7 linked regions of the Homo sapiens genome follow. The protein of the gene in region 7 purifies or fractionates together with the protein of the main gene of each other region. This does not show direct contact. Each region holds a gene or a part of one and is shown on either strand. Other genes may lie near its edges. The genes, in order: PON2, VRK2, FAF2, EMC1, DNAJC18, ADCY3 and SLC9A4.

The links.
Region 1: the proteins of SLC9A4 (region 7) and PON2 purify together in Homo sapiens (affinity purification with mass spectrometry; one large-scale study listed by BioGRID and IntAct). This does not show direct contact.
Region 2: the proteins of SLC9A4 (region 7) and VRK2 purify together in Homo sapiens (affinity purification with mass spectrometry; one large-scale study listed by BioGRID and IntAct). This does not show direct contact.
Region 3: the proteins of SLC9A4 (region 7) and FAF2 purify together in Homo sapiens (affinity purification with mass spectrometry; one large-scale study listed by BioGRID and IntAct). This does not show direct contact.
Region 4: the proteins of SLC9A4 (region 7) and EMC1 purify together in Homo sapiens (affinity purification with mass spectrometry; one large-scale study listed by BioGRID and IntAct). This does not show direct contact.
Region 5: the proteins of SLC9A4 (region 7) and DNAJC18 purify together in Homo sapiens (affinity purification with mass spectrometry; one large-scale study listed by BioGRID and IntAct). This does not show direct contact.
Region 6: the proteins of SLC9A4 (region 7) and ADCY3 purify together in Homo sapiens (affinity purification with mass spectrometry; one large-scale study listed by BioGRID and IntAct). This does not show direct contact.

The regions. Positions count from the first base shown.
Region 1 is NC_000007.14:95,424,679-95,429,324, reverse strand, and holds part of PON2 (serum paraoxonase/arylesterase 2), read left to right. Parts: intron 1-4,646. UniProt on the Homo sapiens protein: Capable of hydrolyzing lactones and a number of aromatic carboxylic acid esters. Has antioxidant activity. Is not associated with high density lipoprotein.
Region 2 is NC_000002.12:58,084,341-58,088,986, forward strand, and holds part of VRK2 (serine/threonine-protein kinase VRK2), read left to right. Parts: intron 1-540; coding exon 541-610; exon of another isoform or gene 611-659; intron 660-1,998; coding exon 1,999-2,086; intron 2,087-4,000; coding exon 4,001-4,106; intron 4,107-4,646. UniProt on the Homo sapiens protein: Serine/threonine kinase that regulates several signal transduction pathways.
Region 3 is NC_000005.10:176,492,239-176,496,884, forward strand, and holds part of FAF2 (FAS-associated factor 2), read left to right. Parts: coding exon 1-94; intron 95-1,760; coding exon 1,761-1,846; intron 1,847-1,945; coding exon 1,946-2,037; intron 2,038-4,247; coding exon 4,248-4,425; intron 4,426-4,646. UniProt on the Homo sapiens protein: Plays an important role in endoplasmic reticulum-associated degradation (ERAD) that mediates ubiquitin-dependent degradation of misfolded endoplasmic reticulum proteins.
Region 4 is NC_000001.11:19,214,014-19,217,842, reverse strand, and holds the end of EMC1 (ER membrane protein complex subunit 1 isoform 1 precursor), read left to right. Parts: 3' UTR 1-2,183; downstream 2,184-3,829. UniProt on the Homo sapiens protein: Part of the endoplasmic reticulum membrane protein complex (EMC) that enables the energy-independent insertion into endoplasmic reticulum membranes of newly synthesized membrane proteins.
Region 5 is NC_000005.10:139,432,376-139,437,021, reverse strand, and holds part of DNAJC18 (dnaJ homolog subfamily C member 18), read left to right. Parts: intron 1-4,646.
Region 6 is NC_000002.12:24,909,840-24,914,485, reverse strand, and holds part of ADCY3 (adenylate cyclase type 3), read left to right. Parts: intron 1-4,646.
Region 7 is NC_000002.12:102,525,226-102,529,871, forward strand, and holds part of SLC9A4 (sodium/hydrogen exchanger 4 precursor), read left to right. Parts: intron 1-1,033; coding exon 1,034-1,121; intron 1,122-4,646. UniProt on the Homo sapiens protein: Electroneutral antiporter that exchanges sodium for protons or ammonium ions at the basolateral membrane of epithelia to regulate cell volume and intracellular pH upon hypertonic conditions.

The sequences.
Region 1 (4,646 bases), on a different chromosome or scaffold from region 7:
CCGTCATTCTTAGCAAACTATTGGAAGGACAGAAAACCAAACACCACATGTTCTCACTTATAGGTGGGAATTGAACAATGAGAACACTTGGATACAGGAAGGGGAACATCACACACCGGGGCCTCTTGTGGGGTAGGGGGAGGGGGGAGGGATAGCATTAGGAGATATACCTAATGTAAATGACGAGTTAATGGGTGCAGCAGACCAACATGGCACATGTATACATATGTAACAAACCTGCACGTTGTGCACATGTACCCTAGAACTTAAAGTATAAAAAAAAAAAAAAGTTCATGCTTTGTGGACAGGTAGCCTGAGTTCATTCATAGCTCTACTATTTACCTGAAACCTTGGACTAATTATTTCACTTTTCTGTGCCCCAGTGTTGTAATCTGTAGGATGGGGTACTGCCTGCTCCACAGTGGGACTATGAGAATGCTTAAAATAATGCCAAGCGCACAGTCAGCTCAATAAATGTCATCTATGTAGACAATGAAATTCAAGCATAATTCCTTAAACCTTTGTGCCATACATCCCTTTGGCAGTCTGGTAAAGCCTTCATTCCTTCTCAGCATCATGTTTTTAAATGAGTAAAATAAAATATATAGGATTACACAGGAAACCAATTAAATACTGCTACCAAGCTATTTAAAAATCTATGATATAATATGCTTTTTAAATTAAACCCTTAAATGGATCTAGAGGTAGGTAAATGTCTAACAGCAGATATTTTGAAGTTGCAATGAATGTAAATGGCACTTTGAGCTATCTACAACTGAAATGCGATAGAAAAGTATCTATAATTTCTATTAGTGACAGTCACAAATACTACTAATAGTATTGTGGTTTGTTGCTTATACTCATCATCAAAGGAAATACTCAATTTGAGTTAAAGGTTTAAATAAAGATGTATTTTTCCCCCATCCAAGTTCATGGATCCCTGAATTCTACCCATGGATTCCTTGGTCACTGGACTCCATAGGGGTCACTTGGGGAATGATTGTGACACCAATGAAGGAAGCCAGCGGATACTGTTTGCTGTATTATACCTACCATAGGCTCGTGATGAGGAAATAATAAAATAAATAACTGTAATGAAAAAGAAAAGAAAGGAAAACAAAAGGAACCTAAAACAGAGAAGGCAAATAGCTTTCCTTTTGAGTGTCAATTTTAACAGACTCCCTGTGGTTGCGAAACAATGTGTCTGAGGCTGGCTCTGGGTTAGAGGGAGAGTGCTGTTATTGATTAGCAATTCCTGCATGACAGCAGAGTGGCAACAGCCATGCATCTCTGACCTGGCACAGTCATAAGCATGTTATAGACATAAAGTGTTAGGGAACAAATAGGCTCTAGCAAAAGTAAAGAGTGTTCCTCCTCTCATATCATCACTTATATGTGTTTATACCATTTATGTTGTATTTTTTACATGAATACTTTTAGATTTATTAATCTAATCCAAAAAGGTTTGTATAGCTTTCTCTATATTAAGAGAAATATATGTATTTCTTAAATACACAAAGTTCTTAAATCTGATGCCAGCGAGGATTGCTTCCAGCCACAAGTAACATATATCAGATTAATAGTAGTTCATTCAAAGAGGGATTTATTTTCCTCACATGAAAAACAGCTCTGTGGGTGACCCAATATAGAGCTTGTTCATTGAGCCAGTGATTATATCAAGGAACTGGGTTCTTCATATATTTTCATTCTTTGATCTCCCCCTATTGACTTTATAGCTGTATCTTTCTCAAGGATGCAGAATGGCTGCCGCAGTCTCAAACACTGCGTGTGTGTTCAAATCATGAAGAAAGGAGATTGAGTGATGCCAGCTAGCTCTCTTCTCGTGACTCTCCTTTGTATCTAGAACACAGTGTCTTTCCCCAAAACCTGGGTCATATGACTACACCTCAATACAGCGGAGTCTGGGAAAGCAAATATTTGCTTTGCCCACCACTACAATAGAAACGACAAGGGAGAAAGAAAGGGGGTTGGGCATGGCGTTAATTTTGTCAGCCGCTAGGGTCTGCCACCCAGAAAACAGAAGTCCACTAACAAGCAGGGAACTGATTGTTCTGCCAGGGAAAAAGTCTGGCAGTTTCCTACTGAAGAAATTTGGAAGTCTTGATGGTCCAGGAAGGATAAAGGCAAAACCTTCATTTTCTTTTATCAAAAAGGAAAGCCAAGAAAAAAATTAGTTAAGTAGAAGTTATGCACAACCCTCATGTAACTCTTCCATGTTAATAGCAGGTAGGCTGCATATGAAAACATGATATTATACAAGAAAACTAGTTGATGAAGATTGCCCTATTTAGCACCAATTACTTACGCAAACCTAAGTTGACTCTGAAACAGGAACCCCATATTAAACTTTTCAAACACATCAGAATATGTTACTTTGAACAGATTTTATTTAATCCAAAGAGATTATCTTTGAAAAAGGTAGATGGTAAACATCGTTATCCCTATTTTTGTATAGTCAAATAGGCATAGTAGTAAGTTGTGTAAAATTGACATCCAAACCAATGCATGATACTAAAACTTGGTGTACAAACAGCAGTTACATCCTATTGCTTTGTATCTACATCTGTTTCTGGAGTCATATAACATTTGTAGAATCTTGGAGGTGTTTTAGGCTCATCCTTATTTTATCCATAAAGAAGACTGACACCTATAGAGATTAACTGACCTGCCAAGGGTCATGGCAGTTTCACTGCTGAGACAAGAACACAGATCCCTTTACTTCTTTCTGAGAAAAGTACAAAGTAGTTTAAAGCAAAAGCTTCCCTGCTTCCAGCACTTCTGGCTAAGTTGCGCCGTGGGAAAATTGTTTTGTCTGATTCAGTTTTCTCATCTTTTAAACTGGAATAATGCTACCTAATTTACAGGGTTGTTTGAAGAATTAAATGAATGCATGGAGGTAAATCACTTAGAACAGCGGTAAATTATACTTTTTTATTATTTATTTCCTTTGACCACCCACAATTATCATCAGTGTCATCCTCATCATCACAATTAAGATTACTACCACATTAGGCTACATAAACTTTTTTTTTCTCTCTCTGTTTTATAATTTCAATTTTATTTTAGATTCAAGGGGTACATGTGCAGGTTTTACATGGGTATATTGTCTGATGCTGAGGTTTGGGGAACAACTGATGCCATCACCCAGGTAGTGAGTATAGTACCCTATAGTTTTTCAGCCCTTGTCTACTCCCTTCCCTTCCCCTTCTAGTAGTCCCCAGTGTCTACCATCGTCATCTTTATGTCCATGTGCACCATTGTTTAGCTCCCAGTTAAAGTGAGAACATGCAGTATTTGGTTTTCTAGCTTATTTTTCCTCTCTTAAATCACTTCTGTGACACGTAGGCCATGAGATTTATTGTATTTTTTAATGCCTTATTTAAAAATTTGTATTATTTAATACATTTAATGCATTATTTTTTATTATATTTAAATATTGATTTATTTGTACTTTTTGCCTTATTGCTATATTGTTTCAAAAAATTTAACATTATTTGAGTTACATGATTTCAAATACATACTGATTAACATTTTAATTAGAAACTTTATGTCTGATATGAATTGCCAAAATGTGTAGTTGGTACAACCTATGAGTCATTCTGGGTTATCTAGAAGAAACTGGTAGCCTGCCCCATACTCCAGAAGCCTTCCCCAGTGTCTAGACCTCAGAAGCTGTCAGGAATATGCACAGGAGAAGGACACATGGCAAATAGCTATTTCGTCTCTTAAATGTATGGTATGTGGGAACCACTGAAAAATGTAAAGTTTCTACAAGGTGCTATTTTTATTATTTATGGCTCTAGAGAACAGAGAAGGTGAAAAATGTGAGAGAGAAGGGAAAGCCAATAGTATGTGGCCTTCAAAACAAAAGATCCCACAGATATTGTCCCAAACTGCTTCCTGGCCCTCTAGAGTGGAGAGGGAGGGGGAAGACATCCTATTAGAGTTCAACATTCTCTTATTATTTCCTTCTTTTAATTTTCTGGGTATACAACAGCAAATAGTTTTGCTGAAGTAGTTACAGAACTAGTTGGTGTTCTCCAACCTTCCTATTCCAATACATACTGTCATGGATGGGTACACTAAAATCTCAGAATTCACTGCTATATCACTCATCCATGTAACCAAAAACCACATGTACCCCCAAAAGCTATTGAAATAAGATAAATACATTCTTATTTAAAAAAATACTGTCATAGGGATGCTACCTTCTTTTCTTTTTTGTTAGTAACTATTTGTGGGATGTCTTTGGTGTGTCAGGCTCTGAGCAATGCCATTTTCTCTTGGCTTCTTTGCAGTCTCTGTGTGAGGCTTACAGTCATTTTTCACGTTTGACTCTTCAGAAGGAAGACAGGGCTACTGGTTCTACATCTGGAACTCTTTTCCCACAACACCAACACTGAGAAATGTGACATGGTGCTGTGTTTACATTTGCATAGGAACTTGCATTATAAGTTTTATTTGTTGAGTTATTGGCTTTTTTTTTTTAATAACCCACATCAGTATATAGAACTTTGCAATAGGCATTTTTGTTTTAACTTCATTTCTGGTGCAGTTTTATTTTCCTACCCTTGTCTTTCTATTTTCTCTTTCATCTGCTTTAGACTTAAACTGTGTTTTATGTA
Region 2 (4,646 bases), about 44 Mb from region 7:
ATCTAGCTATTCTTTCTCTTTCCCTCCCAAATGCCCTCCCACCCTCTCCACCTCTCTAATCAAGATGGTAAGGTCCTTAAAGGCAAGCATAGGGTTTTATTTCTTTTTGGTGTCCCCTGTACCTAGTATAATGAATGAAATATAGTAGACCATTCAGTAAAGGTATCATGTGTGAGTGGACCACAAGGAGAGTTTGCTGTGTATCACCTGGATGTATATGTTGGTATACAGTGAGTGTTGTATATGTTTATGTATACAGTTCTCAGTGCTTCTAGTAAGTGTTCTCTGTAAGAAAACTACTTTTATGTGTAAGACTGTATAGGGATAGTGGTACAATATGTCGTTTAAAAATTAGATTCTTCAAGTTTATTTAGTGTTTTCTGAGATTTTTAGTGGAAATCTGGTGCCTATGTTTTATAAAAAGTGATTCAAGTACTATTATATACTACATATATATGTTCATATTTTCACAGTTGAAATAACAATTCCATCTTTGGGATTATTTTTTTCTAGTAAAATTAATTATTCTTTTTTTTATAGGAATATCAAGAAAATGGCCCGTTATTTTCAGAACTTAAATTTTATCAGAGAGTTGCAAAAAAAGACTGTAGTAAGTAAAATTAGCAAAGCAAGCTACTTCCATATATGTGCTTGCTAAAGTGAGTGTTGATATTTTGGTCTTTTTCTGGCCTTCTGGAAAATTCTTTTCAATAGAAATTTTATTGTAAAGTGATACAGTTAACTGTTACAACATATAAAAGCAAGACAGATGGTATACAAATCTTGACATGACATACATAATGGGTTATATATTTTAAGTCAAAGTTGTTTCTACTACTTTACATAAAATGTTAGGTTGTTAATCTAAGCTACCAAGAGTTCCCTAAGTGTAAAAGATAGTAGAATGAAATTATTTCTTTTACAGTAAACCATTTGGATAGGACGGCTATAAGGAAAAAACATTAAAATGGGAAGTAGATATATGTATAAAAAAAGAACGATTGTAGAATGGATTGGGGCAAGGTGTGTGGAAATGTGAAAATGATTAAACTTTAAGATGTTTAAGAAAATGTTAGAAACTTGAATGCTGGAAAATTAATTGGAGCTGGATACCAAGTGTAAGAATGACCAGTTAGAAGACTTGAATGGGAAATGAATATAAGCAGAGAGGAAAAATAACAGCATTTTATAAATGTGATATAGATGGGCTAAGAAAAACATTAAAGAAGTAGACAGGAGTAATGACTGTATAGTCAAGGTCCTTTACATCATGTTTAAGAATAAGAGTGATGGGTCTGACCTCAATATTTAACTTAGTTTTTCTTAATAAAGTCTTCTAAACATTAAGACTGTAATCTTTACTAATTGCTTAAACTATGTCACAGTGACAAATAGAATCCATTAAACTTGATTGTTTATCAGTAGAGCTGTCTTAAACATAAAAAACATAGGCTAGAGTCATGAAAAAAATGATGAAAGTTAACTTTATTTAAGTGGATTTGATTTTTTGTAAACTAATCAAAACCAGTTTTTGTATAAAGTAATTTCAAAGTAAGATGGTTTTTCTGCCCAATTTCTGCTTTTTTTTTCTTTTTTTTTTTTTTTTGGTCCATTATGGTTTTAAATCTTGAAGTAATAGGGAAGAAAAAGCCATCTCTCTACTGATCTTTTGGTGGTTAACATATGTTATATTTAGAAATTTAGCTAGTATATAAGATAATGAATTCTTTTTATAGATTGAAACATTAATATATATGGTATCAATATACAAAGCCTATGACTTGTTTTTATTGATTTAATTTAAAAATTTCTAATTTTTTGTTAATTATAGTGGTAACAGTTTGAGGCCATTAGATAGAGATGTTTGATTGAAAAAAAATTATCTTCTAGGAAGATCTAATTACTTTTTTGGTTAGCTAAATAAATTTGTCTGTAGAAAGGTGACAAGTATCTTTTCAAATAACATGAATCTTTTTAAAAATAAATTTGTCTTTGTAGTCAAAAAGTGGATAGAACGCAAACAACTTGATTATTTAGGAATTCCTCTGTTTTATGGATCTGGTCTGACTGAATTCAAGGGAAGAAGGTAAAATGGAATTATTATAATCAAATATTTCTTTATAACTATTCCTTATGTGGTCTATGAGTTAACTATTGCCATGTAACAAATTACCAAAACATATTGGCATATAACCACAAACTTGTATTGTCTTAGTTTCTGTGAGTGAGGAGACTGCAAGTGGCTTATCTGTATGATTCTAGATCAGGATCTCTAATAAGGATATGTAGTCAGCTGTCTGCTGGGTTACATTCATTTCAAGGCTCATCTGGGGAAGTATTTGTTTTCAGGGTTCCTCATGTGGCTACTGGTAGGCCTAAGAAGATCTACTTCTAATTTACTTATGTGATTGTTGGCAGGCCTTCTTACTTCCTGATCATGTGGGTCTTTGCATAAGCTACCTGAGTGTTATGAAAAATAGCTGGCTTTCTCTAGAGCAATTAATTGGGGGACGGGGAGAGCATGCACACAAGTGCATTCAAGAAGGAAGTCATCGTTTTTTGTAATCTAATCTTAAAAGGGATATTATCGCTTCTGCTTTATTCTCTTTGCTAGAAGCTAGTCACTAGATAGATCCATTGGTCCTGAGAGAGGAGAATTCAGTTCTATCTCTTGAGGAGAAGCACAACAAATAAGTTATAGAAATATCTTTAAAACCACCAAATATGGCTAGTCCTATATATAATTTATTAATAGTGTTTGAAAAAAGAAAAAAAGTGTGTCATTTTATATTTACCCTTTTGTGCCAGAGACTTTTATATACTTTATCTTATTTTGTCCTTTGAATAGCCTGTTAAAATAGGTGATATTATTTTTATTCCATAGATGAGAGAATAAGCTCAGATGTCAGTACTTTGTTGAAATGGTCTCTAAATGCTTTAAATTTAAAAAAATGAGCAAACAGTAATCTTGAAGTAAAGGACTGCCACTGGGGGACTGAATGGCTGATTGAATCATGATACATCCATATCATGTCATATGTAGCCCATTAAAGAAGTCCATTAGAGCTATACTAGTTGCCTTAGAAGGATTTTGATGAGATACTATTGAAAAAAGTAAGATGGAGAAAATACTTATAATATGATCACATTTTTGTAAAACAAATTCCTAAGTGTGTGTGTTTGTGTATGCATGCATAGATATAGAATAGGGGCTGATGTGGATATATAAATGAAGGGAAGGAAAGAAGGTATGGAAGGTGCCAAACAGAACAGAAAAGGAAGAAGTGCACTTAAAGACATGTTTATAAATGTATAGAGACGGTATATATGATCTTATCAAGAAACAAACAAATATAAAATTCATGTGGCTGGGCACGGTGGCTCATGCCTGTAATCCCAGCACTTTGAGAGGCTAAGGCAGGCGGATCATGAGGTCAAGAGGTCGAGACCATCCTGGCCAACATGGTGAAACCCCGTCTCTACTAAAAATACAAAAATTAGCTGGGTGTGGTGGTGCATGCCTGCAGTCCCAGCTACTTGGGAGGCTGAGGCAGGAGAATCGCTTGAACCTGGGAGGTGGAGGTTGCAGTGAGCTGAGATTGCACCACTGCACTCCAGCCTGGTGACAGAGCGGGACTCTGTCTCAAAAAAAAAATCAAGTGTGTACAATAATTTGTTCAAGGCCATATGGCAAGAAAGTCATGGAGTCAAAATGAATTGCATTCAGTACTATCTAATTTAGAAAGATTTTTTCATTATGTAAAACAGTGTGAATGGTTCAGTACAGCATTCTCTTATAGAAAATCAGCTGCAAAGTAAATATTGAGCAGTTTCTGCAAAAGAATAGCAGAATTATGAACGTGCATTCATTCTCTAATGGTTTAGATTGCATTATACTTAGTTGTTAGGTTGAGCGTAATTTTTCTTGTTTCAAATTAAATAGACAGTTTCAAGCATTACTTTCTCAGGATGATCTCTTTTTGATGCTTTTTTCTTACAGTTACAGATTTATGGTAATGGAAAGACTAGGAATAGATTTACAGAAGATCTCAGGCCAGAATGGTACCTTTAAAAAGTCAACTGTCCTGCAATTAGGTATCCGAATGGTAAGAATTACTTATTTCGCATGCTCCATTTCCAAATTGTTTACTTCTTGCAATATAGAAATCTTTTCCCTTTGTGGAATTATTAGAGAATGAAGGATTATTGCCCTAGAGACATCAGTTATTAGGAGTAGAGGCTATTTTGGTGAAATTGATAACAATGGGCTCTGTAAGTGACAGAATGTGCTGTGTATGGCACTGCAAACTCAATTAGGCTTTGGTTCTCCAGTCTGATCTTCTTTTTCCTTAGAGCTTTGTTTTACATACCAGAACAAGCTTTCATTGCTGTAAGAATAACCTTTCTTTTGTCAGTTATAACAATGCAAATTATGGCAAAATATATTGTCAGACATTTTAAACATGTGATGGTAGGGGGGTGCTATGAAGTTTTTATTATGAGTTTGGGATGGTGGCAATAATTAGTTGTGACAATGAATAAAATATACTTTGCCAAAGCAGAAGCAACGAACTCTTAATAGCACTCAGGCACACATTTGTTTATACTACATATTTGTCTTATATGTTTGTATTTGGTTTGTTTAA
Region 3 (4,646 bases), on a different chromosome or scaffold from region 7:
TGACCCCGTTGGGGACATTGTTTCATTTATGCACTCTTTTGAAGAGAAATATGGGAGGGCACACCCTGTCTTCTACCAGGGAACGTACAGCCAGGTCAGTGCCATAAACCATATAGATGCCAACTTACCGAAATGATTCTATCCTCAAAGGAGAGCACAGCCCAGCACTGATCATGTCCTTCTTGTACTCAAAAACCTTAATTAGCTCTTCACTGCTTATAGGGGTGGGTAATAAAAAAGACCAAACCTTTTAGCTGGCCCCTCTTTGATCTAATGCTGCCCTTCTTTTGAGGTCTTTTCTGCATAACTTATTTTACCATACCCTCAGTTCCAGCTGACTCATTCCCTGAACATAGTCTGTACTTGCCTACCTCTGTGCCTTTGCTTTTGCCGGTCCATCCACGTGGAATGCCTTCCTCACATTTTTGCTAATTGGAATCTTGCCAGTCCTTCAACTAGATTATGTCACGCCCCACTTACAGCTATCCCTGATTGTTGTGCCCTGTCCTGCCCTATCTCATCATCTAGAATACTAATCTTTCCCTTTGTTCTTCCATAGCTTTTAAAAATTGATAGCAATTTTATATTCTTTCCTATATCATTTGTGTTCGTGTCTAATCTCTGCTACCAGACTGAAAGCCCCTTGAAGGCAAAGCCTACATCTTCTTTGATCTCTCACAGAATTGAATAAGGACATAGACCATAGACTCAGGGTAGCACATCTCATTCAACCTCAGCCATGTAGACCTTTGACTCAAGACCTCACCATTCAGGGGAGGAAAAATTAGAGTTCTGTGGGTGTTTGGTATATCTCTAGTTTGCCAGAGAAATACATAGAATTAACACTACAGGAATAGGGAAAACTATGGGAATGCTGTGGCAATAGGCAAAAGGGGGTTCTATTATGCAGCCTCCAGAATTCCTGAATCTATCTGGAGAAAGAAAAATGCTCACCCTTGCTTCCTGCTTTCATTTTCCCACATCTGCTTTTTATCATAGTCAGTCTCCTCGCTGGCTGTTCCCACCACACTCAACAAAAACTGAGCACCTACTGTATGCCAGGCAATGTCCTCAGTGCTAGAGATACAGAGATGAGTGAGATGAGCACCTCCTGTGTACCCTCTCTGCTATGATCCTGAGGGTAGACCACCCTTGACCATGTCAGCAGTCGTACAGTGTAATGTGCTCAGGAGCACGCACATGCAGGAGCACGCACAGGAGTCTTCGGCGCTAGCCTTGTCTTTGAAAGTCTTTTACACCCTATGCTCTTTAGAATGCCTTTGGATCGTACAGTCCATCATTCCTACTCGATATGTGGCCTGGGATCAGGGTTGTCTTCGCAGTTATTTTTTACTTACAAGGATGTTGTAGCTGTGAAGTAGAAAAATTCTCACCTCCCTTTCATATGGTCAGATTCTCCTGTTTTTATCTTCCTTAGACTGTGGGTGCAGCTGACTTTTCTGTGGTTTGTTGGGAACCTGTGTTTGTAAGCCTGTCTACTCTCATGTGTCTGTTAAGTTTGAATCCTAACAACACTAAAACCTTTTCATTAAAGCTTGTTAGCGTGGAGTTTCTATAGGGAGAACAATGCCAGGGGTGTGAAGGTAGGAGCTCAGGAATTTTCTGATTTCTTGCTCACCTTTTTTCCTTATTTTTCCTTTTGTTCCTAAATACATAACTGTATCCATTAGGACCCTTAGCTTAAATATAAGCTCAAGGCACAGTCTTCTTAATAGTGAGTGACCTTCTCTTTCTCACAGGCACTTAACGATGCCAAAAGGGAGCTTCGCTTTCTTTTGGTTTATCTTCATGGAGATGATCACCAGGACTCTGATGAGTTTTGTCGGTAAGTGGATTGATTATTTTCCTTCTCTTTTCTGACTCTTTCTGGTGACAGTTTATAGTCAGCAAGTTGTTCTCATATCCTTTTCATACCTTTCCACAGCAACACACTCTGTGCACCTGAAGTTATTTCACTAATAAACACTAGGATGCTCTTCTGGGCATGCTCTACAAACAAACCTGAGGGATACAGGGGTAAGTTATGTTTCTTCTGCCTCATTGAGATTGTTGGAGTATCTTTGGAATAGTCTGGAAAGACATGCCATGCCATTTATTACAAGTGTGTTTGTTCTGTGGTAGATACGACGCTAGTTGCTATTTTATATTGTCTCATTTAATCCTCTCAGCAGTCCTGAGAGATGGGGGGTCATATTACCTTTGCTTTATGGTTTAGGAAATAGGCTCAGAGAGTTCAAGCCACTGGCTGAAGATCACACAATTAGCAAGTTTTATTTTTTTTGTTTTTATTTAATTAATTAAAAAAATTTTTTTGAGATGGAGTCTTGCTCTGTCGCCCAGGCTGGAGTGCAGTGGTGCGATCTTGGCTCACTGCAACCTCCACCTCCTGGGTTCAAGCGATTGTCCTGCCTCAGCCTCCTGAGTAGCTGGAACTACAGGCATGCACCACCACGCCCAGCTAATTTTTTTGTATTTTTAGTAGAGATGGGGTTTCACCATGTAGCCTCAAACTCCTGGACTCAAGTGAGCAGCCCACCTCAGCCTCCCAAAGTGCTGGGATTACAGGTGTGAGCCACTGTGCCCCGCCATAATTAGCAAGTTGTAGCGTACAGTCGGGTCTGCCAGATTCTAAAGCCCGTTCTTCACATTCAGCATTGCCAAAGCCTGCCACATTCATAGAAATACCCAGTCTTGGCTAGCAGCTTGCTTTTAATCTTAATGGGCTTTTTACTGAAGAGTTTATTCTTTTCATCAACGATTTTAACAGAGCCCTTGCATAGTGAGTCAGTTGTTTGAGTACCTTGAGTGCTGATATGGATTTGGAAAGTTCAGATCTTTGCTGACAATAACTCTTCTTTGGAGATAAGTATTTTTAGACGGTTAGTAAAAGATACGAAGGCATCCAGTGAGGAAAAATGTAGTCATTTTTGTGGCTACTTCTATCCAGCAACTTTTGAGTTTATATTAGCATGCCACATACTGTGCCATGTCTTGAGAACCAAAGATGTGGCAGATGTTGTCCCTGCATCCCAGAGTCTGAATCTTAAGCCTAATTGTTTTTAAACATCCAAATTCCTGCATGCGTTTTGCCATTCTAATATGGCTTTGCAGGGGGCAGAAGGGAGGTTGTGAATAGAAGGAAGGTAAGGATTTTTTTTTAATAGAAGTTTATAAAATCTCTTATTTCACACCATAAGGAAAACATAGGTAAAACTCTGTTATGGTAAAAATCTTGGTCATTTGGACACCAATTTTTTTTTTTTTTTTTTTGAGACCAAGTTTTACTCTGTCACCCAGGTTGGAGTGCAGTGGTGCGATCTCAGTTCACTGCAGCCTCCACCTCCCGGGTTCAAGCGATTCTCCTGCCTCAGCCTCTCGCCTATCTGGAATTACAGGCGCGTACCACCACACCCTGCTAATTTTTGTATTTTTTGTAGAGATGGGGTTTCATTATGTTGGCCAGGCTGGTCTCAAACCCCTGACCTCAAGTGATCCAACCACCTCCGCCTCCCAAAAGTGCTAGGATTAAAGGTGGAGCTACCAGCCCAGCCTCAACTTTCTATTAATAAGCTTCTTTGGAACAGAAAAACTAACCTTTTTAAGGGTGGAGAAAAGTTACGTGGGGAGAAAGGATAAGGAAAGGATTAGGCAAGAGAAAAAAAAATGATGATGGAGATTATTATCAGTATCATCAGGCTGAGACTTGCAGCCTTGTGCCCTTTTAGGTTTGAGCCCTTGTACAGGGAAAAACTGTGCCAGATTCTTTATAGATCCTTTTTGTACCATCAAGTAGACATTATCCTTAAACTCTGCAGCCTTCCCTGGCATCATCACAACAACCACACCGCCACCAGGAAAGCCTGTCCTATTCTAGTCAAGCACCTAGGGATAGGCATGCAAATTGATAACAAAAACAAAAGATTACAAAACTGGGAGGAACTGGGCATGGTGGCACACTCCTGTAATCCCTGCTTCTCAGGAGGCTGAGGTGGGAGGGTCACTTGAGCCCAGGAGCTGGAGACCAGCCTGAGCAACATAGTGAGACCCTGGCTCAAAAAAAGAAAAGAAAGAAACTAGGAGGCGGGGAAAAAGCGGAGACTAAATGATACCTCTCGTCTTCCCCAACCAGGATTAAAACAGTTCTCTCTCACTCATTGTGGAAAGTCTAAGGGTTGATCTTTTTCACCGTCAAGTCCTGCCCTTGATCTGTTGGGTCTTTTTATCAGTCTCACAGGCTTTACGAGAGAACACCTATCCATTCCTGGCCATGATTATGCTGAAGGATCGAAGGATGACTGTGGTGGGACGGCTAGAAGGCCTCATTCAACCTGATGACCTCATTAACCAACTGACATTTATCATGGATGCTAACCAGACTTACCTGGTGTCAGAACGCCTAGAAAGGTACAAGGGAGTTCCCTTCTGGAACAGAGAGAGACCAGTTGTAAATTTGGAGGGCTGACCTCTGGGGCTCTACCAATCCTGACTTCTTCTGTGCATCAGGCCGCTATTAGCTTTTAGCTTTGCCCATTTATTGTCAAAATATTTACATACTTTGACCTAAATTACTCTATATCAGGTAATCTGTTCTTAGAGATGTTCAAAATAAAGACAAGGGCTGGGTG
Region 4 (3,829 bases), on a different chromosome or scaffold from region 7:
ATTGAGTGACTGAATGTCTAAGAATCTCCAGAAAAAAACAGGCATCTATCATCCTGACCCAAGGCATATTTTAACATAACCTGGGAGAAGAGAGTTAAGTACAAGTTAAAAAAAATTCTGCCCTAGTTTTGAGAAAGCCTGGCTGGAATTCTGACTGTCTTACATACATATGTGCAAGGTTAGCCTGCAAGATTCTAGTTTTTATTTACCAGTGTGCCAGAATCTGAAACAAGCTACTGGGAGGGAAGGTATTTGTCCTTTAGTAAAATTCCCTGTATTTCAGCTGTAATCAAAGTTACCTCAAAGCAGGTGCTTTTTTTTTTTTTGAGACAGAATCTCACTCTGTTGCCCAGGCTGGAGTGCAGTGGCACGATCTTGGCTCACGGCAACCTCCACCTCACAAGCAGCTGGGACTATAGGCATGTGCCACCACGCTCAGCTAATTTTTTGTATTTTTAGTAGAGACGGGGTTTCATTGTGTTGGCCAGGCTGGTCTCGAACTCCTGGCCTCAAGTGATCTGCTGGCCTTGGCCTCCCAAAGTGCTGGGATTACAGGTGTGAGCCACCGAGCTTGGCCAAGTGCTTAAAATAGTTAATGCTAATGCCACAGTCCAATTTAAATCTTTTCTTAGTTCTCAACTTTCCTTAATCTTAAAGCAGCATTCGGTTCTGAGCAGCTACACTCAGTCTCCACTAATGGCTGCTGAGACTATGTTTCCTCTCTCAATTCTCTGATCTATTTGCTTTCTTGTCATTCCTTGTTTTTTGTGTGTATTCCTTGACTTACCTCTTCTCCTGTCTTCATTAATTAGGTTAATTTTGGGGCCCCATGGTGTTTCACGTAAAAAGATTTGGCTGGGCGTGATGGCTCATGCCTATAATCCCAGCACTTTGGGAGGCCATAGTGGAGGATCTCTTGAGCCCAGGAGTTCCAGACCAGCCTGGGCAACATAGCAAGACTCTATCTACAAAAAATAAAAAAAAATTAGCCGGGCCTGGTGGCATGTGCCTGTGGTCCTAGCTACTCAGGAGGCTGAGGTAGGAGGATCACTTGAGCCTGGGAGGTCGAGGCTGCAGTGAGCCATGAACATGCTACTGCATTCCAGCCTGGGCAACAGAGTGAGACCCTGGCTCAAAAACAAAAACAAAAACTAGTTTGTTTTAGTATTCATTAATTACGTATATGAGCACTGGTAGTCTAGTGTTTGTTCTTGTATACAGTGTTTTCTTAAATGAGATGATGCTATTTAATTCTGTTACTTGTTTTTTCAACTAATGGATCTTTTAAAGTTTTTTATTTAAATTTTTTGTGGGTACATATTAGGTACATATACTTATGGGGTACATGAGATGTTTTTATAAAGGCTCAGCTAATGTATCTTGAATATCATGTATTCATAAAGATGACTGAAATAGTTTCTGGAACAAAGTCTGATAGAAAAAATACTCAATTCCTAATTTAAGTGTTAGAGACTTTAATGTAAGCTATCTAATCTGAACTAGTTTCATTATTTGTGTGTGGGTACATGTTATGTGCTCCGTAAGGCATCTTTCAATTTGAAAATTTCATAATTGTAATTTCACTGCCTTTATAAATTGCTTTTTTTTTGGAGGCAGGGTCTCTGTCACCCAGGCTGGAGAGCAGTGGCACAGTCATAGCTCACTGCAGCCTCGAACACCTGGGCTGAAGTGATCCTCCCTCCTTAGCCTCCCAAAGTGCCGGGATTACAGGCATGAGCTACTGCACCTGGCCCATAAATTGTCATACTTTTAAAGAGCCTATTACACAAAGTATCATCAGAATCATCCCAAGACTCATTTCCTGATTCCTAATTATTTAAAATTTTGCTTTTAGGCGAGGCATGGTGGCTCAAGCCTATAATCCCAGCACTTTGGGAGGCCAAGGCAGGCAGATCATTTGAGGTCAGGAGTTTAAGACCAGCCTGGCCAACATGGTGAAACCTGAAACCCCATCTCTACCAAAAAAATAAAAAAATTTAGCCAGGTGTGGTGGTGCATGCCTGTAATCCCAGCTACTTGGGAGGCTGAGGCAGGAGAATCGAACCCAGGAGGCAAAGGCTGCAGTAAGCCGAGATCATGCCTCTGCACTCCAGTCTGGGCAACACAGTGAGACCCTGTCTCAAAAATAAATAAAATGAAAAAATTGCTTTTAAATCATGAAACCATTCTGTTTTCTTTACTTGGAATGTTTTCTTCCCTGCTTAAAATCTGGCTTGTCTCAAATCTGAACTCCTCCATAAAGTCTTCCCTATTGGTTTCAGCTACTCAGGACCTTCAACCATCCTGGCTGCTTACCACGTAACTTCCTGAGTGATATACCACACCCCTTTATTATTTCAGATATTGTGTCTCTTAGGGACTGTTTTCTGAATTACCTATTGTCCCAGACATGAAGTTGCTCCTTGACAAATAGTTCCCCAAATGGCTGTACCTTCTTCTCCAGAACCCTTAGGAACTTTGTCCTCAGTTTCCCAAATTTCTAAGACTTCGGTGACTTAGTAAAGGATTTTTTTCCTTTTTTTGAGACAGAGTCTCATTCTGTCTCCCAGGCTGGAGTGCAGTGCCTTGATCTCGACTCACTGCAGTTTCCACCTCCCGGGTTCAAGAAATCCTCCTGCCTCAGCCTTCCGAGTAGCTGGGACTCCAGGAGTGTGCTACCACACCCAACTAATTTTTGTATTTTTAGTAAAGACAGGGTTTCACCATGTTGGCCAGGCTGGTCTCGAACTCCTGACTTCAGGTGGTCTGCCTGTGTGGCCTCCCAGAGTGCTGAGATTATAGGCGTGAGCCACCGTGCCTGGCCCCAATAATTCTTTTTTTTTTTTTTTTTTTTTTTTGAGACAGAGTCTCACTCTGTTGCCCAGGCTGGAGTGCAGTGGCGCAATCTCGGCTCACCACAACCTCTGCCTCCCTGGTTCAAGCGATTCTCCTGCCTCAGCCTCCCGAGTAGCTGGGGCTCAGGCGTGCGCCACCATGCCCGGCTAATTTTTGTATATTTATGGAAATGCCAAGAGATAGTTCAATCTGCCTCTCTGGCAAGCCATGGACACCAGGTCTGACAAACTCTCTTACTCCTTAAGACAAATGCTCACCTGATCAATATGGGGAAATAAGCTGCATGGTACCATAATTTCTATTCTAAAAGGGAAAAGTATCTCTTTGGTATTGCTTTGGAAAACATTCTTTATAACTATCTTGCTATTTAAAAATTGACAATTATCCTTCCATAATTAAAACAGGTAGACAACATCCTGTGCTCTTTCATTTTTTTGTAAAATGTAACAAACTATTCAGCATTCTTGAAGCAACCTTTCAATAATGGAGATACTGGTGCTTCATATCAATCAGCTGTTTTGATTTTGTGGCTAAGTTCTTTATTTTAAAAAGACTATGTAAGTAAAAAAAATTTTTTAACAATATCCCCAAATTAAGGTGAGTGTTGCCTTCAAAACCTCCCCCACCATGTTTCCCAGAGGTCACCACTGAACAATTTGGTATCTCTCCAGGTAATACAATCTTCTGCAGCTTGGTTTTATCACTTAGTCTATCGTGGAGAGTGCCTATGTGAGAGGTAATGGATCTACACCATTCTTAGTGGTCACACGGTTGAAATTCTTAAGTGCTGTTCCATTAGAGATTTTTATGAGACTCAATACTCTTTCGGGAAAGTCTAATATTTAGGTCACCTTTCCAGTAAGAAATTTGTAACATAAAGGATGTGTACACACCCACCTTCCCATTTTTTTTTAGGAATCAGAGTGTGAAGTTAGTTGAGACTGACCTCCAACGAAGAAGCCTGTTTTCCACC
Region 5 (4,646 bases), on a different chromosome or scaffold from region 7:
AAAAGATTGAAATCATACAGTGTATGTTCTCTGAAATCAAAAACAAAGGGAAATTTGAGAAATTCACAAATATGTGGAAATTAAACTACAAGCTCCTAATAAGCAAGCAAGTCACAGAATAAATCACTAGGAAAGCTAGAAAATGCTTTGAGATGAGTGAAAATGAAAACACGACGTACTAAAATGTATAGGATGCAGCTAAAACAGTGCTTAGAAGGAAATTTATAGCTCTAAATGCTTATTTTTTTAAAAAAGACTCCAAATCAGTAACCTAATCTACCTTAAGGAACTAGACAGCCTGGACAATACAGTGAAACCCCCTCTCTTCCAAAAAATATATATATACAAAAATTAGCTTGGTATGATGGCACCAACCTGTAGTCCCAGCTACTTGAGAGGCTGAGGCAGGAGGATTGCTTGAACCCAGTAGGTTGAAGCTACAGTGAGTCATAATCGCACAGCAGAGCAAGACCCTGTCTCTCAAAAAAAAAAAAAAAAAAAAAAAAGAAAGAGGGATATCCCTACCAATCCAAATACTATGAACAATTGTGTGCCAACAAATTAGATAACCTAGATAAAATCAGCAAATGCCTAGAAAGACACAAATTACTGAAACTGACCCAAGAAAAATGGAGGCCAGGCATGGTGGGTCACACCTGTAATCCCAGAGCTTTGGGGGTGCTGAGGCAGGAGGATTGCTTGAGACCAGGAGTTTGAGACCAGCCTGGGCAACACAGCAATACATTATCTCTAAAAAAAGAAAAAAAAAATACTTGGGCATGGTGGCACATGCCTGTGGTCCCAGCTACTTTGGAGACTGAAGCAGGAGAATCACTTGAGCCTAGGAATCTGAGGTTACAGTAAGCTATGGTAGTGCCACTGCATTGCAGCTTCGGTGACAGAGACCTTATTTCCAAAAAAGAAAAAGAAAAAAAAAAGGAAAACCCAAGTAGACCTACAACAAATAAGGTGATTTAATTAACAATCAAAAAAATTCTAGCTGGACATGGTGACTCATGCCTGTAATCCCATTACTTTGGGAGGCTGAGGTGGGAGGATCACTTGAGCCCAGGAGTTCAAGACCAGCCTGGCCAACATGGCGAAACTTCATTAGTACAATAAAAAACAAACAAAAAGACCCCACAAAAATTAGCCGAGCATGGTGGTGCACACCTGCAGTTCCAGCTGCTCAGGAGGCTGAGGTAGGAGGATTGATGGAGCCAGGAAGGGCGAGGCTACAGTGAGCACCACTGCACTCTAGTCTGGGTGACAGAGGGAGACCTTGTCTGAAAAAAAAAAAAAAAAAAAAAAAAAAACTTCCAATGAAGAAAAGTCCAGGCCCAGCTGGCTTCATTCTTTGAGACCAGTATTAACTCTGTAACCAAAACCAGACAAAAATATCATAAGAAGTCTAAATTATCAACCAATATCCCTTATGGATATAGATTTTAAAATATTCAATAAAATACTAGTAAAACAAATACAGCAATGTAAAAAGTATTATATATTTTCACCAAGTGGGATTTATCCCAGTATTGCAGGATTGTTTAACACACACAAGTCAATCAATGTAACATACCATGTTAATAGAATAAAGGACAAAAATCACACGATCATTTCAATAGGTACAGAAAAAGCATTTAACAAAATCCAACACTCTTTTTTTTTTGAGACGGATTCTTGCTCTGTCACCCAGGCTGGAGTGCAATGCCACGATCTCGGCTCACTGCAACCCCTGCCTCCCAGGTTCAAGCGATTCTCTGGCCTCAGCTTCCTGAGTAGCTGTGACTACAGACGCGCACCACCATGCCTAGCTAATTTTTGTATTTTTAGTAGAGACGGGGTTTCACCATGTTGGCCAGGATGGTCTCGTGACCTTGTGATCTGCCCGCCTCGGCCTCCCAAAGTGCTGGGATTACAGGTGTGAGCCACTGCGCCCAGCCCCAACACTCTTTCATAATAAAAACACTTAACTAGGAATAGAAGGGAACTTCCTCGACCTGATAAAGTCCATCTACAGAAATCCACAGTTAACATCATACTTAAAGGTGAACAACTAGGTGTTTTCCCACCAAGATCAGGAACAAGACAAGTATGTCTGTTCACTCTTGCCACTCTGTTCAACATTGTACTAGAGGGTCAAGCCAGGGCATTTAAGCAAGAAAAAGAAATAAAAGCCATCCAAATTGGAAAGAAGAGTAAAACTACATCCACAGATGACATGATCTTGTAAATGGAAAATCCTAATGAATACACACACACACACACACACAAATACTGTTAGAACTAATAAACAAGTTGGACAAAGTTACAGGATATAAGATCAATATACAAAAATTATCATTTTTCTATATACTAGCAATGAACAATAAAAAAATGAAATTAAGAAAATATAGTTGAGGCTGGGTGTGGTGGCTCATGCCTGTAATTCAAAACTTTGGGAGGCTGAGATAGGAGGATCTCTTGAAGCTAGGAGTTCAAGACGAGCCTGAGCGACATAGCGAGGCCCTGTCTCTACTAAAAATAAAAATTTAGCCAGGTGTGGTGGCATGCACCCAAAATCCCAGCTACTCAGAAGGCTGAGGTAGGTGGATCCCTTGAGCCCAGGAGTTCGAGGCTGAGGTGAGCTATGATCACCCTACTGCAATCCAGCCTGGGTGACAAAGCAAGACCCTGTCTCTATATACAAATAAATAAATAAATAGTTTTAAAAAAGAGATACAGTTGGCCTTTGAACAACACAGGTTTGAGTGGCATCAGTTTGAACCATGGATTTTTATATGTCAATTTTAAAAGATAAATACATTGGAAAAATTTTTTAGATTTGCAACAATTTGAAAAAGTGGCTCACATCTGTAATCTCAGCACTTTAGGAGGCCAAGGCAGGAAGAATACTTGGGCTCAGAAGTTTGAGACCAGCCTGGGCAACACGGCAAAACTCCGTCTCTACTAAAAATACAAAACTAGTCAGGCGTGGTGGCGCACACCTGTAATCCCAGCTACTTGGGAGGCTGAGGCGGGAGAATTGTTTGAACCCAGAAGGCAGAGGTTGCAGTGAGCTGTGATTGTGCCATTGCACTCCAGCCTGGGCAACAAGAGCGAAACTCTGTCTCAAATAATAATCATCATCATCACCATCTCACAAACCATGGAGCATGGACATACCAAAAAATTAAGAAAATTATATGAATGCATAAAATATATCTAGATTCTAGTCTATTTTATCATTTACTATCATAAAATATACACAAATCTATTATAAAAAGTGAAAATCTATCAAAACATATGCTCACAAACACTTGAGACTACATGGTACCATTTGCATTTGAGAAAAATGTAAACATACAGGTGCAGTATTAATCACACCTGCATAAAATTAACAGTAGTACTGTACTACTGTAATAATTTTGTAGTTAGCTCCTGTTATTTTGCTGAGCCTCAAGTATTGGGAGTATCTGCTTAAAATGCCACATGATGCTAATCATCTCTTTGTGAGCAGTTTGTCTCTTGAGTAAATTATGTATAGCAGTAAAAAGTGATCTCTTGCAGTTCTCCAGTTTTGTTTTTTTTTTTTTTTGAGATGGAGTTTTGCTCTTGTCGCCCAAGCCGGAGTGCAGTGGCACGATCTTGGCTCACTGCAACCTCCACCTCCCAGGTTCAAGCGATTGTCCTGCCTCAGCCTCCCAAGTAGCTGGGATTACAGGCGCCCACCATCATGCCCAGCTAATTTTTGTATTTTTAGTAGAGATGGGGTTTCACCATGTTAGCCAGGCTGGTCTTAAACTCCTGGCCTTGTGATCCACCTGCACTTAATGCCAGCAGGTAAGAAAACATTGCACTTTTTGCAAAATACCTTTTCATCTCATATTGAAAATGAAGCTTTTATATGGGTGCAGGACTGCTATAAGAAAGGCATACAGTCCATGATGTGATTATTACTTATCGCATGCCTGAGCTCAAGGCTTCCACTCACCTCAGTCTCTCAAAGTGCTGGGATTACAGGTGTGAACCCTGCGGCCAGCCCTACCTCATCAACTTTTTAGTGCAGACAAAAGTGCCCTATTCTGGAAAAGAAATGTCACAAAGGACATTGTACTAGTAAGGATGAGAAGTGAGCATCAGGATATAAGGCAGGAAGGGATAGGCTAACTCTGCTATTTTGTGCAAATGCAGTTCAGTTTATGATGGGGGCTGCCATTATATATAAAGTTGCTAACCCCTGAGCCTTGAATGGAAAAGATGAACACCAGCTGCCAGCCTTTTGGTTGTACAGCAAGAAGGCCTGGGCACTGAGAGCCCTTTTTCTGGACTGGCTCCATTGATATTTTCTTCGTGAAGTCAGGAAGTACTTTGCCATTAAGGGACTGCCTTTAAAAAGTTCTTTTGGATTAACTCAGGGTTATGGTGCATGCCTGTAGTCTCAGCTACTTGGGAGGCTGAGGCAGGAGAATTACTTGAGCCCAGGAGTTGGAGGCTGCAGTGAGCTATGATCGTGCCACTGCACTCCAGCCTGGGTGACAGGGACCCTACCCTGTCTCTAAAAAAAAATAAAGTTCTGTGGCCAGGCGCGGTGGCTCACGCCTGTAATCCCAGCACTTTGGGAGGCCAAGGCAGGTGGATCACAAGGTCAGGAGTTCAAGACCATC
Region 6 (4,646 bases), about 78 Mb from region 7:
GGCCAGGCTGGCCTCGAACTCCTGACCTCAGATAATCCGCCTGCCTTAGCCTCCCAAAGTGCTGGGATTACAGGTGTGAGCCGCTGTCCAGAGGAGGGAACAGAGGACGAAACAGAGATGGGTGATAACTGGTTCACTGTCACCCATCACTTTGGTGGCAGAAACAGGACGGGAGCCCAGGCGTTGACTCCCAGCCCAGGGCTCATTTGTCTGTGTTCCATGGAGCACTGATTGCTGCTCCATGGGTCCCCCATCCCAAGAGGCAACACAGGCCCAGAGCAGCCGGAAGGGAGGACAGATGGATCAGGAGGAGCCGAGGCTGGCAGTGTTTGCCCATTTCGCTCCCCTGGCCTGGGTCCTGCCCCAGGACCTGTTACGGAATTACTTGCCCTTTACTGCCCTAAACTGCCCCTGGGCTGGGTGAGGAGGAAGGAGGGGACTGGGCTCAGGACCAGGACCTGCAGGACCAGCGGCCAATGAGTGCGGACAATGGGGAAGGCAGCCAGGATGGTTGGGGGTGGTGGTGGGCGGGGCGTGCCTTTAGCATTTGGCAAAGTAGGGACTAGGAACTGCTGACAAATATTTTGTACCCTTACTTCAGAGCAGAAAGGCTATTTGGGAGCAAAATTCTCTCATGGAATGAAGAGCCTGTTAAGACCTTTTTTCACCAAGTAAAACATGAGGAAGCTGTGGATGTGCAGTTTCTTTCACACCTGCAAATTACACAGCAATCATTCACCCAGCAAAGGAACATTTGCTCCTAGGGGCTGGAGGGAGCTGCCGTAGGGAGGGTGAGAGGAAACTGAGGCTTCCAGAGACACCCTGTCTGCAGACGGCAGGTAGCTGTTGCATGCACCTCATCCCATTTAATCCTGGATGTTACTGGCTCCATTTCACAGATAAGGGGACTGAGGCTCAGTGAGGTTGAGAGGAGGTAGTGGGGCTGGATTACAGGGGAGGGGTCACTGATGAGTGAGAAAGGTGGGTTGGGGGACTTCCCTGAAAGCCTCTCTTTCTCTGGAACCCAGGCATCTGGGCCTCCTACTTTTCTGGCTGCCCCCAAATGTCTTTGCTAAGCAACGTAGCTGAACAGTGCCAAGAGATGGCAGTCCCTAAGGTATAACAGGAGGCACCCCCTTCTCCCCATGGGAATTGGATGCAAAGAAGGGAGAAGCCCATGACGATGTTCCCTGTGGGCACGTGGCCAGGAGTACTTGAGAAAGGCAGGGGGCTGAATCGGGACAGGAGCTGGTGTGAGGTGCGGTGGGCAGGAAGCAGCAGGCCTGGGGGCTTTCAGCCTTCAGGAAGCAGGCTGCAGGGAGAGGTGTGCAGGACACAGAGCAAGAGGAGGCAAACTCAAGCCAGTCCTGGCTCTTTGGCCCTGGGCTCCTCCACTGACCCGGGACGGGAAAGAAGCCGTCATCCCTCCGTGGAGAGTATGCAGATGGGCATCAGTGGAGGGTCCAGGGACCAGAACAATGATGACGTGCGTAGAAGGGGACTGCAGGGCCATCAGATTCAGCTGCATGTGAGGAGGAATAATCAGTCATTGAACATGTAAACAACTTTGCAGAAAATCAACCCCTCCATCCTTTCCCTGTCGCAGCTTTCTGTGGCCTTTTCTGACCCCGATCTGTGTATAAACAGAGCTTTCCCAGTTTGTCATCATCATGCATATGCAATTTAGGCCCCACCTTTCATCCACATTATTTCCCTGACATTTTGCTGTGAACACTGGACTCCTCGTGTTTATTATTTTAAATCAGCGCTTTATAGTCAGCGAGTTTTTCTAGAGAGGAAACGGAAGCCCAGGGCTGGGCCAGGGGTGGGTAACTGGGTAGTTTTATATGCACATGCAGGCACACACACACACACACACATGCACACACACACACACATGCACACACACACACACATGCACACACACACACACATGCGTGCTCACTCCTGGGCTTGGTCTGCCCAGCCTTCTGGGTAAACCCTCCGTCAGATGGAATGGCTGGGATGCCAGGGTTATTGGCATTCTGCAGTTTCTTCATAAACAAACAGCAAATCCCACGAGGGTGGTCTAATGCTGGGTAAATATTCCAACACCACCCTCTGCCCCTGGCTGCCCCCCCACCAAATTACACATTCTTTTTGTTTTTTCTTTTTTTCTTTTTCTTCTTCCTTTTTTTTTTTTTCAAATAGAGACAGAGTTTCACCATGTTGCCCAGGCTGGGCCTGAACTCCTGAGCTCAGGCGGTTCACCCACCTCGGCCTCCTAAAGTGCTGGATTACAGGTGTGAGCCACCATGCCCAGCCATCACCAAATTACACGTTCTTGATAATAGATTCCACGGGTATGTGCTATCACCAACACGGAGACTCAGAGACACATTGTGCGTAGGTCGAGGCCCATGAGCAGGGACAGTGAGGAGGTGGCTGTGTTTACTGAGCTCTTGCTCTGTTACAGTTTAGTGCCTTCTGGCAAGAGGCAAATATTATTTCCATTTTACAGATCAGGAAACTGAAATGGGTGACAACTGAAATGACTTGTCCAGGGCCACATGCCTAGTAAGAGGCAGAGCAGGATTGGAGCCCAGGTCAGTAGGATTTTGGAGTTCCTTCTCACTGGAGTCATAAAAGAACCCATTAGGCGGTGACCAGTAGCTCATGCCTGGAATCCCAGCACTTTGGGAGGCTGAGGCAGGAATATCACTTGAGGCCAGGAGTTCAAGACCAGCCTGGGCAACATAATGAGACCCCATCTTCATACACACACACACACACACGTACACAACCACCAAAAAAAATTCAGCTGGGCTTGGTGGTGTGTGTGTGTGTGTTTTTTTTTTTTTTTTTTTTTGAGTCTGTCTCCCAGGCTGGAGTGCAATGATGCTATCTTGGCTCACTGCAGCCTCCGCTTCCCAGGTTCAAGCAATTCTCCTGCCTCAGCCTCCCAAGTAGCTGGGATTTCAGGCACCCACCACCATGCCTGGCTAATTTTTTTTGTATTTTTAGTAGAGACAGGTTTTCACCACAGTAACCAGGCTGGTCTCGAACTCCTGACCTCAGGTGATCCACCTGCCTCGGCCTACCAAAGTGCTGGGATTACAGGCATGAACCACAGCGCCCAGGCTGATGGTGTGTGTCTTGTACAGGAGGCTGGGGAGGGGGATGGCTTGAGCCCAGGAGTTTGAAGTTACAGTGAGCTCTGATCATACCACCCCACTGCAGCCTGGGGAACAGTGAGACCCCATCTCAAAAAAAAAAAAAAAAAAAAAAAGAACCCTTATATCTTCCCTCGGAGCCTGTTGAGATAGTTCCAACGGGGTTAGGGTTTTGGTTTCTCAACCCACAAGCATTAGAAGGAGCAATTTGGGGGATGAGGAGGTGTTTTTGGGGGCATCTTCAAGGAACAGAGATGTCTGGGGTGTTGAGTGTTGCAACCAACAGCCCTCATATGCACCTTCTCTGGCTGTAGGAGGCGTTGTTACATTATAGGACAGCATAGTAACTGATGTGCATAATGGTGACCAACTCATCAAGAAAATATTAAGGCCAGGCGCGGTGGCTCACACCTGTAATCCCGGCACTTTGGAAGGCCGAGGTGGGTGGATCACGAGGTCAGGAGATCGAGACCATCCTGGCCAACATGGTGAAACCCTATCTCTATTAAAATACAAAAAATCAGCCGGGCGTGGTGATGCACGCCTGTAGTCCCAGCTACTGGGGAGGCTGAGGCAGGAGAATTGCTTGAACTTGGGAGGCAGAGAGTGCAGTGAGCTGAGATTGTGCCTGGTGACAGAGGGAGACTCTGTCTCACAAAAAAAAAAAAAAAAGAAAAGAAAAGAAAGGAAATATTAAATTGCATTTAGCATAAAGTGTAGTGTAGTATCTAAAAACATTTTCCTCGGGAATGGATAACACAAGTTTGAACAAATAAGGATTATATTTGGAAATTCAGTAATGTGGGATGGCTCATTACTCAGTGTTACTGAGTATATGTCCATTTATTCACCATGTGTTTTAGTTATCCACTGCTGTGTAACAAACAGCCCCAAAATTTGGAGGCTTAAAAGAGTAACAGTTTAAACCTGGGCAACATGGCAAAACTCTTGTCTCTACAAATGGTACAAAAATCAGCCAGGCATGGTAGCATGTGCCAGTAGTCCCAGCTACTCAGAAGGCTGAGGTGGGAGGATTATGAGCCCCGGATGCTGCAATGAGCCATGATCGTGACACTGCACTCCAGCCTGGGTGACAGAGCAAGACCGGTCTCAAAAAAGAATAAAAAAAGAATGACAGTTTATTGTTTCTCATGATCCTGTGGGTTGACTGTTCAGCTGGGTGGTTTTTGTGCTTCACGTGGCATGGGCTGGGGTCACTCATTTGTCCACCTGCGCTGTTTCATTCACCTGCAGCATTCAGTTGCCAGCTATGCTGGCAAGTTCTAAGAAGCCTTTACTCATGTCTGGAGCCTCAGAGCTCCTCCTCCTGACCTCTCCATGTGGCTAACTTGGGCTTCCTCACAGCATGGTGGTCTCAGAGAGAAGGTGGAAGCTATCACAGTTTTTAAAGGTTAGGCTCATCACTATCGGCTACAAGAAGTCCAGGCTAACTCAGATGCAAGAGGAAATTGATTCTATCTTTTGATGTTTGAG
Region 7 (4,646 bases):
GTACAGGATCTCACATGCATGACCATCGATGCTTAAACAAACAAAACCCCACCTTGTTACCTGAGAGATACTAAAGCAAGAGTGCAGGACACCAGAGCAACCTTTTTCTCTGGGTTCAGGGCCCCAAGGCATCTGCCCATAGGGTGCTTCCCTCCACAGTGGGTCAGGGACTGCCACACACTTGGTGTGCTATGAGTCCAGACACAGACCTTATGGTGACCAGGTACTGACCATGCCCTTCAGTCCTCATGGTCAGTACCTGGTCACCATGGGGTCTGGGTCTGGACCAGACCCTCTGATCCCAGGATGCTTACTTCTCTCCCAAGAAGGTATAGGAAGGGATTGGTTGTTACCAAGACTCCTGGGTCACCTTCACATCAGCCACTGTGTTCCTGCACTCTTCCCATTGGAGGCCATAACAAACCAGTCTTACTGGCAATTTGAATGGAGGCTGGGTGAGAAGCAGACCTTAATCTCAAGCCTAACCTCAGTGGGGATACGAGAGTAACTTTGAAAGGTTGCTAATGGTCTATTTTATCATGAGAGGGGAAGGAAATACATGTTGGAGACTGGCGTGTTCTGCTTTCTCAAAACAAAAAAACTAAAAGCCAGTAATCCAAACAAGATGCCACAGAACAGGTCTGTGTTCTTCCCCTTATTTTATTATATTAGTTTTGAGACAGAGTCTCGCTCTGTCACCCAGACTGGAGTGCAGTGAGTGGCGCGATCTCAGCTCACTGAAACCTCTGTCTCCCGGGTTCATGCGATTCTCCTGCCTCAGCCTCCTGAGTAGCTGGGATTACAGGTGCCCGTCTCCACGCCCTGCTAATTTTTGTATTTTTAGTAGAGACGGGGTTTCACCATGTTGGCCAGGCTGGTCTTGAACCCCTGACCTCAGGTGATCCGCCCTCTTCTGCCTCCCAAAGTGCTGGGATTACAGGCGTGAGCCACAGTGTCTGGCCCTTTATTTGCCATGTGAAGCTCTTAATTGAGACAGCTTATTCTGCTTTTTCTTTCTACTTGCTACCCACAGGCTGGCACCAAGAATATCCGCTACCTCTCCTACCCCTACGGGAATCCTCAGTCTGCAGGAAGAGACACAAGGGCTGCTGGGTTCTCAGGTAAGCTGCCCACCTGGCTGCTCTGCTGCTTTTCTGTAGAGTCAGGTGGTAAATATCTGGGGGTGTGGGCCAAGAGGCAACATTAAGAACATTATGTAGGTTACTTACATGATAAGAAAAAGAAGAAAACAACTTCTTTTATAGTTGAAACTCGGAACTTTGTTTATGAACACTGAAATTTGAATTTCGTATAATTTTTACTTTTCATGAAATATTATCTTCTTTTAATTTTTTTCAGCCCCTTAAAAATGTACTAACCATTTGTAGTTGACATGCCATACACAAAGAGGAAGTAGGCCAGATAGAGACCAAGGGTCATAATTTGATCTCATCTTGAAGAAATGTGAAAGGAGTGTTTCATTGAAGTTCTAATATTCACCCACTATTTAAATATGAGCAGAGTTCTCCAAAGCTGGTTTAATTTCACTAAAATGATTTCACCAGATTTACTGATTAAATGTTTTCCATTTAATATTTAATTATTAAGTGGAATTCTTAGAATTATTGAAACTTTATTATTCTAATAAAAGCAGTTACTATTTTTATATGTGTATAAAATGATTTGCTATTAGCAAAAGGTGACATAATATATGTAATATGCCGTGTTATCTATTTTTATTTTCCTAATTTTTAAGTGTTAAAATCATGTTGGAAATTCACGTAAACTAAACATAAAGGATTTTAGTATTTAACCTTTAAGGAGTATATGTAATTACCTCAAAATGAAACTTTTTTTCTGATTTAAAAACATACTTGATACAAAGTCAAAATCATTCAGTAGAGAAAAGCATAAAAAAAGTTAAAAGCATTTGCAACCCTAATGCCAAGGTATGATCACCATAGAATGTTTTGGTGAGCACCCTTCTAGAATTCTTCCTATACCTGCCTGATCCCACACTACCCATACTGACACCTCCCTCCACAAAAAAATCACAAAAACATTGCATCATATGATACATAAAAGCAAAGTATAGTCATTGTTTTGCAATCTTTATAAATTGCCTAGTTCACTGAACAAATGTTGTACCTAGGTTTCCATGTCAATAGATGTGGATCTAATACTCATTTTTAATGAGTTAATAATAATTATATGCATGTACCAAAGCTTATTAAGCTAATTCCTAATTAATAAATACTTAAGGTATTATCAACTTTTAATAAATATAAACAATGATACATATTAAGGGCTCTGGACCACTTGTGATTGGTATTTTAACAAATAAGCAATTACTCCCTTAGTATATTTTCCTAGAAGTAAAATTTTGAGGTCAAATTCATATAGATTTAAATTTTTACATATATTGTCAAAACACCATCACAAAAGATTATATCACTAATTTGCCCTCACAACAACAGTCTGTAAGAATGATCTTTTCCTAATACCACTGGGATGTTGTCAAACTTTTGAGTAATCTGTGATATCGTAGCATAAAATTTATATGTCAGATTTAATTTTCATATGAATCTCTTTGATTTTTAGTGAAGTTGAACATCTTTCACATTTTGGAAACAATGATATTTCTTGGGGTGAAGTTTTCTGTTCCTGCCTTTGCTCGTTTTTTGTTTTGTTTTTTTCTATTTGGTTGTTGATTTTCTTGAGATGAATTTGAAGAACCCTATATAACAAGGATATCATCCATTTTATCTCCTATATGTTGCCAACGATTTTTTTATTTTTTTGAGATGAGTCTCTCTCTGTCACCCCGGCTGGAATGCAGTGGAGCGATCTTGGCTCACTGTAACCTCTGCCTCTTGAGTTCAAGCGATTCTCCTGGCTCAGCCTCCCGAGTAGCTGGAATTACAGGCATGTGCCACCACACCCGGCCAATTTTTGTATTTTCAGTGGAGACGGGGTTTCACCATGTTGGCCAGGCTAGTCTTGAACTCCTGACCTCAGGTGATCCCCCTGACTCAGCCTCCCAAAGTGCTGGGATTACAGGCGTGAGCCACCGAGTCTGGTCGATAGTTTAATTTTTTTAAACCATCTTCCTGGTACAAATAACCTGGCACTATTTTTGTTATTTGAGTGAGAAAACAAGAAAGTGTCACAGTTCTTTCTTTTTTTTTTTTAATTTAAATTTTTTTAGAAAAAAATCTTAAAAAGGGACAGGGTCTCCCTATGTTGCCCAGGCTGATCTCTAACTCCCGGGCACAAGGGATCCTCCTGCCTCGCCTCCTAACATGCTAGGATTATAGGTGTGAGCCACCATGCCTGGACGACAGTTATTTCTTAAGAGATGAGCATCAATACTGCATGCCTATGGTAGCAGGAGATGACCACGGAGCAGATTCATTTGAACAAATCTTAAATAAGCATTATAAACAAAATACAGCAAAACACTAAAGTACAATACACCTTGCAAAGTGGGGTTTATTCCAGAATTTGAGAGTTGTTTAACATTTGGAAACATACATATATTATTCACTAGACTGATAAATAGGTCACAGGATCCTAACCTTTTAATGGATGTCCTCACTAAAGGATATCTCAGTCACACTTTCAGTCAAAGCCATAAAATGCCAGGAAGAAATAGACAGGATATATATGAAGGAAAAATAAAATTCTACTTCTCCACACTGTCATTTCCGGTCTATAAAGAGGATGATATTGGTTCCCTCCATATGCAATTGTATTGTCCTGATGTGAAGCCAGTCTCATACATGCAGGATACGCATATGAACAGGTACATAAAGCTGCTAGAGCAGAGTCTGGAACCAAGTAGATGTGCAAGAAATATTAGTCATTATTACTATTACTACTTAGGGACTTAAAGAAGCCTTGACATGGGTAAATACAGATGTTCTTGGAAAGAAAGACAACACTTCACCATGTCAGTTCTACATGAATTACTTCAGACTTGGAATGAACTGTTAGTCCCAATGATTTCTTTTCTTTCAAATATACTCGACTGGTTCTAAGTTTCATCCAGGTGAACAAAGACAGTGGTTAAACTAGAAATCTGAGGGAAAAGTAATGAAATAGCACTTATGTTAGCAGTTTTCTTTAATAAGTTTTAAAGATGGGAAATCAGTGCTCTGCAATATGTTATGGGTCATATGTCTGCAGGATTTTAAATACTTGTTCTTATTTGTCATGGAAACTTATGCCTATTTATGCAGACTCATTTCTGGCTTGCTTGGAATTAACTCTACTGTGAATAATTTGTCATTTCTGTGGTTACGATTTATGAAAAATAATAAACCATGATACATTTAAAAAGGATTATAATAGTGATCAGGATAAGGCTGAGATAGTCCTCAATGTGTAATCAAGCACAATTGATCATTGGAATCCTTCTCTCCAAACCCAAAGTCTTTCTGCACCAGGAGAATGGCTGGAGGGGATCTAGGGGAGACAGTGGAGAGTCATGTTCTGCAGGCAAGCAGTCCCTGGCTAACCCACCTGAAACTTGGAGAATGCTTCCCTTCCTAGCTCTCCCCTTGCCCTCCAGGGTCAGGACTTTTCTTGTTCTGGATGTCTTGGAGCTCCATGCTGGTTTGGGGGACTTCACATGCTTTTCCAGG